Linked DNA regions of Homo sapiens. The gene in region 2 interacts genetically with the main gene of each other region. Each region holds a gene or a part of one and is shown on either strand. Other genes may lie near its edges. The genes, in order: ALDH2 and RAD23B.

Region 1 (3,822 bases), on a different chromosome or scaffold from region 2:
TGAACTTGACCTCCCTGAGCCTCAGTTTCCTCACCCGCAAGACGGGACAGCAATACTACCAGGCTTATAGAGTTGCGGGTAGGATGAAAGGTGAAATGCAGGTAGAAGTCCTCAGTAGAGGGCCTGATGGAAAATAGGTGATGAATAATCATGATTACTGGAGCAGGGAATACATACACATGTCCACAACATGTAAATTCTCAACTCAGCTTGACCTCAGGAGCACAAACATTATTATAGCCCTGTCACCTGAAACTCAAGTGTGTCCCACAGATTCTGGGCAGGCAGGAAGTATTGAATGCCCATTTGTGTTCTCTGATTAAAAACACGGGCCGGCCACGGTGGCTCATGCCTGTAATCCCAGCACTTTGGGAGGCTGAGGCGGGCGGTGTCACTGGGCCCCACCACAACCTCCGCCTCCTGGGTTCAAGCGTTTCTCCTGTCTCAGCCTCCCAGGTAGCTGGGATTACAGGTACATGCCACCACACCGGCCAATTTTTGTATTTTTAGTAGAGACGGGGTTTCATCATATTGGTCAGGCTGGTCTCCACCTGAGGTGATCCGCCTGCCTCGGCCTCCCAAGGTGCTGGGATTACAGGCATGAGCCACCACACCCAGCCTGCCTAAATCTATTTCTTTTTGTTTTTTTTTTTTGAGACGGAGTCTCACTCTGTCACTAGGCCTCACTCTTATGCCAGGGCATGAGCTGCCATGCCCGGCCACCTAAATCTATTTCTATAGAGGCTCTTAAAACTCCTAGCTGGATGTTGTGGCCCATGCCTATAATCCCAGTGCCTCTAGTGGCTGACGCAGGAGGATCGCTTCAGCCCAAGAGTTTGAGGTTGCAGTGAGTTATGATCATGCCATTGCACTCCAGCCTGGGCAACAGAGCAAGACCCTGTCTCAAAAAAAAAAAAAAAAACCAAAAAAAAAAGAGGCCAGGTGCAGTGGCTCACGCCTGTAATCCCAGCACTTTGGGAGGCCAAGGCGGGTGGATCACAAGGTCAGGAGTTTGAGACTAGCCTGGCCAACATGGTGAAACCCCAACTCTACTAAAAATACAAAATTAGCTGGGCATGGTGGCGGCACCCGTAATCCCAGCTACTCAGGAGGCTGAGGCAGGAGAATCGCTTGAACCCGGGAGGCAGAGGTTGCAGTGAGCCGTGATCGTGCCACTGCACTCCAGCCCGGGCGACAGAGTGAGACTACATCTCAAAAACAAAAACAAAAACAAAGGACACTCCTAAAGAAGTCATCAACCTGTACAATCAATAGGGAGATTCAGTCAGCACAAAGTCACTCCAAAACACAGGTTTTGGCTCATTCTGTAAGAATCTCCCAGGCAAACAAGAAAAAGCAAATTTCTGCTTCAGATATACCGTTAACAGTGATTATCTGCAGGGGTGGCACATCAGGGGACCATTATATTTTTTCTTTTTTCTTTTAATATCTGCTCATGGGGTATTAAGTTTTTTTTGTTTTTTGGGGAGTTTTTTTTCAGACGAAGTGTCACTCTGTCACCCAGGCTGGAGTACAGTGGTGCGATCTCGGCTCACTGCAACCTCTGCCTCCCGGGTTAAAGTGATTCTCATGCCTCAGCCTCCGGAGTAGCTGGGATTACAAGCGTGGGCTACCAGGCCTAGCTAATTTTTGTATTTTTAGCAGAGTCAGGGTTTCACCATGTTGGTCAGGCTGGTCTCGAACTCCTGTGCTCAAGCAATCTGCCCGCCTCAGCCTCCCAAAGTGCGGAGATTACAGGCGTGAGCCACCGTGCCTGGCCAATTTTTAAAGAAATCAAACATTTAAATGAAGCCAGAGTCCTCGTTCATCACTACCCTTATCCTGTCCTGCCCACTCAGGCAGTAACCACCCTCACACCAAGGAGAATTTTCCTTCCAGCACATTCTTACACATTTTTTATGGAGATCTGTCTATCTACATACAACATAAAGTTTTGTACAGTTTTCATGGTTTCATATGGTGTAGAGTGCTGGACATTTTTCCTCCTTGACATATTGTTTTTGAGATACATTATTTGTACAGGTTGAGCCAATGATTTGTAACTGCTACATGCAGAGGATTATTTCCTCCTATAACTGTAACATAGGTGTTCATCTATTTCCCAATGGAGCTCGAGCTGGCTTATTTCCTAAGCTTTTACTGACATAAAAGAAGTTGCAATGAACATTTCTGTATGGTGCCTATGTATACTTGCAGTGTTGCCCAGGATGGAGTGCAGTGGCAAGATCAAAGCTCACTGAAGCCTCAAACTCCTTGGCTCAAGCAATCCTCCTGCCTCAGCCGCCCAAGTAGCTGTGACTACAGGTGCTCACCACCATGTCCAGCTAATTTTTTTAAGCTTTTGTAGAGATGGAGTTTTGCTATGTTGCCCAGGCTGGTCTCGAACTCCTGGGGTTAAGCAATCTTCCCACCTTAGCCTCTGAAAGTGCTGGGATTACAGCTGTGAGCCACCACACCTAGCCTTGGGAAATCCATCCTTAATTGCCTGTCAGTTCTCTCTTTAGTTCAGTGCTTCACACTGTAATCCCAGCACTTTGGGAGGCCAAGGAGGGAAGATTGCTTGAGCCTAGAAGTTCAAGACCCAGCCTGGGCAACATGGCAAAACCCCATCTCTATAAAAATTATAAAAAATTGGCTGGCTGCAGTGCCTTAATCCCAGCACTTTGGGAGGCCAGGGCAGGTGGATCACCTGAGGCCAGGAGTTCAAGACCAGCCAGCCTGGCCAACATGGCGAAACCTCATCTCTACTAAGAATACAAAAAAATTAGCCAGGCGTGGTGGTGGGCACCTGTAATCCTAGCTACTCAGGAGGCTCAAGCAGGAGAATCGCTTGAACCCAGGAGGTGGAGGTTAGAGTGAGCCAAGATCACACCACTGCACTCCACCCTGGGCAACAGAGCAAGAGTCTGTCTCAAATAAATAAAATAAAATAAAAAATACAAAAATTAGTCAGGTGTGGTGGGGTATGCCTGTAGTCTCAGCTACTTGGAAGACTGAAGTAGGAGGATAACTTGTTGACTGAGCCTGGGAGGTTGAGGCTGCAGTGAGCACTACTACACTCCAGCCTGGGCAACAGTGAGAGACCCTGTCTCAAAACAAAAACAAAAACAGAAAGAGAGGGTAAGAATAAAGATGCAAGTTTTAATTCACCCCAAACTCCCATTCTACTTTACCACAATCTAGCTCACCCCTTCAGGAAACAAACTGCAAATACAACAGCATCCATATCAAATGGAGTTTGATCACCAAGACACTGCAAGTCCACAGCGTCACTGTTATCCCAGCTCCTGCTTAAGGCTGCAGTCAATATGGAGGCACCAGTGGCCATGAAGCCAGCACTGCCTGTGGCTGCAGAAGCCTCACCCCATTTGGTCCTCACAGCAATTCGGTGATGCAGATGGAATTTTACCCCCCACATTTTTTTTTTTTTTTGAGATGGAGTCTCGCTCTGTCACCCAGGCTGGAATGCAGTAGTGTGATCTCGGCTCACTGCAACCTCTGCCTCCCAGGTTCAAGTGATGCTCCTGCCTCAGCCTCCCAAGTAGCTGGGATTACAGGTGCGCGCCACCATGCCCAGCTAATTTTTGTATTTTCAGTAGAGACAGGGTTTCACTATGTTGGCCAGGCTAGTCTCGAACTCCTGACCTCGTGATCCGCCTGCTTCAGTCTTGCAAAATGCTGGGATTACAGGTGTGAGCCACTGCACCCAGCCATTTTACCCCATTTTACAGATGAGGCAGCTGAGGTGCAGAGTCCACTGCTGTATGCACCATCCCTCTTCCCTGCTGAGTCAGCAATAAG
Region 2 (3,822 bases):
CACCCAAGATGGCCCCCAATGACTCCCATCTCTTGGTATTCAAGCCTTTGGTACATACCCTTCACATACTAAATTATGGCTAGTCCACAAGAACAGTAAGATACTGCTGAAGTAAAAGTGTGACTTCTGAGGCTGGTTTATATATAAAAGCCATCGTTTCTATTTTGCTCTCTTGGATCACTAACACTGGGAGAAGCCAGCCACAATGTCATGAGGACATATGGGGAGGATCTGAGGCCTCCAGTCAATAACCATCACCAAGCTGTTAGCCATGTGAGGAAGTCACTTTCAGTGGGAACCCTCCAGCCAGTCAAGCCTTTAATGCATAGAATGAAGTCCTTAAATCCAACTTCCTGAGACTCTTGAGTAAGAACCACACAGCTAAAATATCCCTGAATTTCTGACTCACAGAAATTATGAAATAGTAAGTGTTTACTGTTCTAATTAAGTTTTGGGGTAATTTGTTATGCAGTAATAGGTTAACTAGTACACAGGTAGATACTATTATCCTCTTTTTCTAATGGGGACACTAAGGCAGATGAAATAAAAAGGTTAAACATACAGGCTCTAGAGGCAGAGTCTCTAAATTTGAATCCTGGCTACTCATATGGGAGATGGTATTTGTAAATAACAAGTATTGTTAATGTGTGTAAGTACTGACCAGGCTTTTTTTTTTTTTTTTTTTTTTGACAGAGTCTCGCTCTGTCACCAGGCTGGAGTGTAGTGGCACGATCTTGGCTCACTGCAACCTCCACCTCACGAGTTCAAGCGATTCTCCTGCCTCAGCCTCCCAAGTAGCTGAGACTACAGGTGCACGCCACCACACCTAGCTAATTTTTTGTATTTTTAGTAGAGACAGGGTTTCATCACATTGGCCAGGAGGGTCTCGAACTCCTGACCTCGTGATCCGCCCACCTCAGCCTCCCAAAGTGCTGGGATTACAGGCATAAGCCACGGCGCTCAGCCTGACCAGGCATTTTTAAAGGCAATCTGCCACACTTTGACCAAATAATTTCGCATCTAGAAATCAATGCTAGAGGTGCTCATGTAACTACTTCAAAGACAAAGGTACAAAGTATGTGCACTACATTGCTTTTTGCAATACTAAAAACTGAAAACCACCCTAAACATCCACAAAGGAGAAATGGTAAAATAAATTAATGTACATAAATTCATTTGAACATTATGCAATATAAATGAATATTTATAACTATGTTTGAGGAAAAAAAGCTAGTTGCTAATTAATTTTTTTAAACAAATAGTGTAGTTGTGTTCATGTATTATGTGTAAATGTATTTTTTGAAAAGACTAGAGGGATATACAGAGTCTACAGTGGTTCCTTAGACCGATGGCAAAAGCCATTCTCATTTTACTATACTTTATTTACTATAATGAGCCTGAATTACTTGAGTAATTTAGGGAAAACTGGACTTTCAAAGAGAAAAAGAGATTTCATTTAAAAGAAAAAGGTCTAAGGCAGTTCTAATACTACACGGCCTAATTAAAAAATAATAGCAGCAATTAAATTTTGGCAATCAACAATTAGCAAAATAAAGGAGATTCCCAAAGCCAAATGTGTACTAAAGGATTTCTTATGTTTACACTACAGGTAATGCTTTTTCTTTTTTGGTTCTTCGGTTCTTCTCCTTCCACTTGAGAAACTGGTACAGGCACCAGAGTATTTCCTGGGGAATTTCTGTCCCAAGGTAGGTTCCTGATATTTCTACAAATACAAATTTGATTTTAAAAATGTCAGCTGACTTCAGTACAAATAGGAAAAATCTCCTCACTGGACCCAAGGAATAAAATAATTTAGTACAGGAGATTTTTACAATTGAAACAATAACTGATAGCATAACATTAATTATGTGAGAAGAGGCAGGCACTATAACAAAGGCAATCCTCAAACTGGGGTTATGATCCAAAAGGCTATTATTTTAAATATATGATTTGAAATCCAAAACCCATTTGTCCCACAGAAATTAAGCCAACCAATTCATGCCAATTTAATCTATTATAAAATATATTCCTAACAGTATGATTTCAACAAGACCAAAAGAAACACAGGAATTTGAAAACTGAGTAAGCAGAATTCCCAAGATACCTGTAAGTTTCTATATAGGCAAAGAATGGATCTCGCCAGTGCACTAGCAAAAACAAGGTGCCTACCTAATTCAACCAGAAGTGTGTGGGGAATAATTGGTGAGAACAACTTTATCTACCTGTTTAAGCCTCCAGAATCTGTTCATGTATTGTCAGTCATTTGTAGCTGGTCTACCTCCTCGAAATAAGTTTATACAATGTTTACAAGTTTTATAAAGCTCATTCAGTTGTAAAATTAGCTTTCGTGACACTATAAAAAACATTTATTTATCTAAACTTACAGGGAACAGATGGTGTAGTGTCCTTCGTACGATTCACTGTGCCACAGTAGGGTTAAATTTAGCAAATTTCTTTCAGAAATTAACTGGAATCCTATACGGCATCTATCGCGGCAGGACCTTGTTCATTGATTTTACACACTGTTCAAAATTGCTGATTATGTCAATCTAAGAAAATGAGAATATCTCATTCATACAAACCTTTTAAAGAAAGAATAGTGAAATGATCGAAATAAAAACTGATGAAAGCAGGATTTGTTTAAAAACTGCAAAATTTATTTCTAATTTCACAATTCACTAAATATTTCCATGCCCATGATCTCACCTGATTTTCACAACTGTTAGGAAAGCAGTTCAATTATTATTACTCTCATTTTAATAAAGAGGAGAAAGACTTTTTTAAAAGTATTGTGCTTAAGGACAAAGCACAAGTACAAAGTTGTGAGGACTCCCTTTTAGGAACAGTATGGTGGATCTGAAAAGAGCAAGATGTGGAAAAAAGTAAACAGAATTAAGAGATACTCCTGAATTTTCTTGAGAAGCAGGGAAATAGGGCAGCAGCTAAAGAGGGATGTGGACACAAGGGAGTGTATCATTAAGATGGGGAAAAATGTTTGTATACCCTAGAAATGGGAAAAATCAGTGATGAAGAGAAAAGATCTGATGGAGTGATGTCCTTCACACATGACAGGGGATGAGGTACAGTGGAAAAGTGGAAGGACCTGCCTTAGATAGCACCGCCCACAATTCAGAACTATCTACAGTAAGAAGAGGCTAGCAGGTAGGTAGCTACGGTAGGACCTTGTAGACATTCTGTCTCGATTATTTCCAAATTCTCAATCAAATAAAGACTAGGGTCATCAAGTGAAAATAAGCAGGCTAGATGATATGAAAGCATCCTGTGGCAGTGGAAGAGTGACTGGACTAGTAAACTGTAAGACTGTCAGGTGCTGCATACTAAGGACCCAATTAAGGTTCCTTAGTGTGCCTTAATGTTCCTTAGTGCTCATGAACTTAAGTTCCTTAATGTTCATAAATTTAAGCAAGACAAGTCAATGTGGCTACAAGGTGCATCTCTGGCCACTCAGGTGCAAGTACAAACACTGAGTTGAATTTAATCACATTTGAGGCTTTCTAAGCAAGAACAATGGAGGGAGAGTGGTACCACATTGCCAAGCACTGTTAATATTATTTCAAAACCCATATACCAATAAGTTAGTACTTTCATACTAGTATTCTCATTTTACAGCAGAGGACCAAAAGGCACATACTGAGTAACTTGCCTGAGGTGACACAGCAAGTGGTACAGCCAACTGTACCTCTCAAAACATATCCTAATTCCATCTACTTCTCTACATCTCCACTCCTACTGCCCTGGTTCAAGCTGCAATTACTTAAAACTACTGCACAAGCCCCCTAACTGATGTCTCTGCTTTTCACT

Evidence for each region.
Region 1: changes in RAD23B (region 2) and ALDH2 are lethal when combined (synthetic lethality), as found in Homo sapiens cells (one large-scale study listed by BioGRID).

Annotation. Positions count from the first base shown.
Region 1 is NC_000012.12:111,769,775-111,773,596, reverse strand, and holds part of ALDH2 (aldehyde dehydrogenase, mitochondrial isoform 1 precursor), read right to left. Parts: intron 1-3,822. UniProt on the Homo sapiens protein: Required for clearance of cellular formaldehyde, a cytotoxic and carcinogenic metabolite that induces DNA damage.
Region 2 is NC_000009.12:107,289,543-107,293,364, reverse strand, and holds part of RAD23B (UV excision repair protein RAD23 homolog B), read right to left. Parts: intron 1-3,822. UniProt on the Homo sapiens protein: Multiubiquitin chain receptor involved in modulation of proteasomal degradation. Binds to polyubiquitin chains.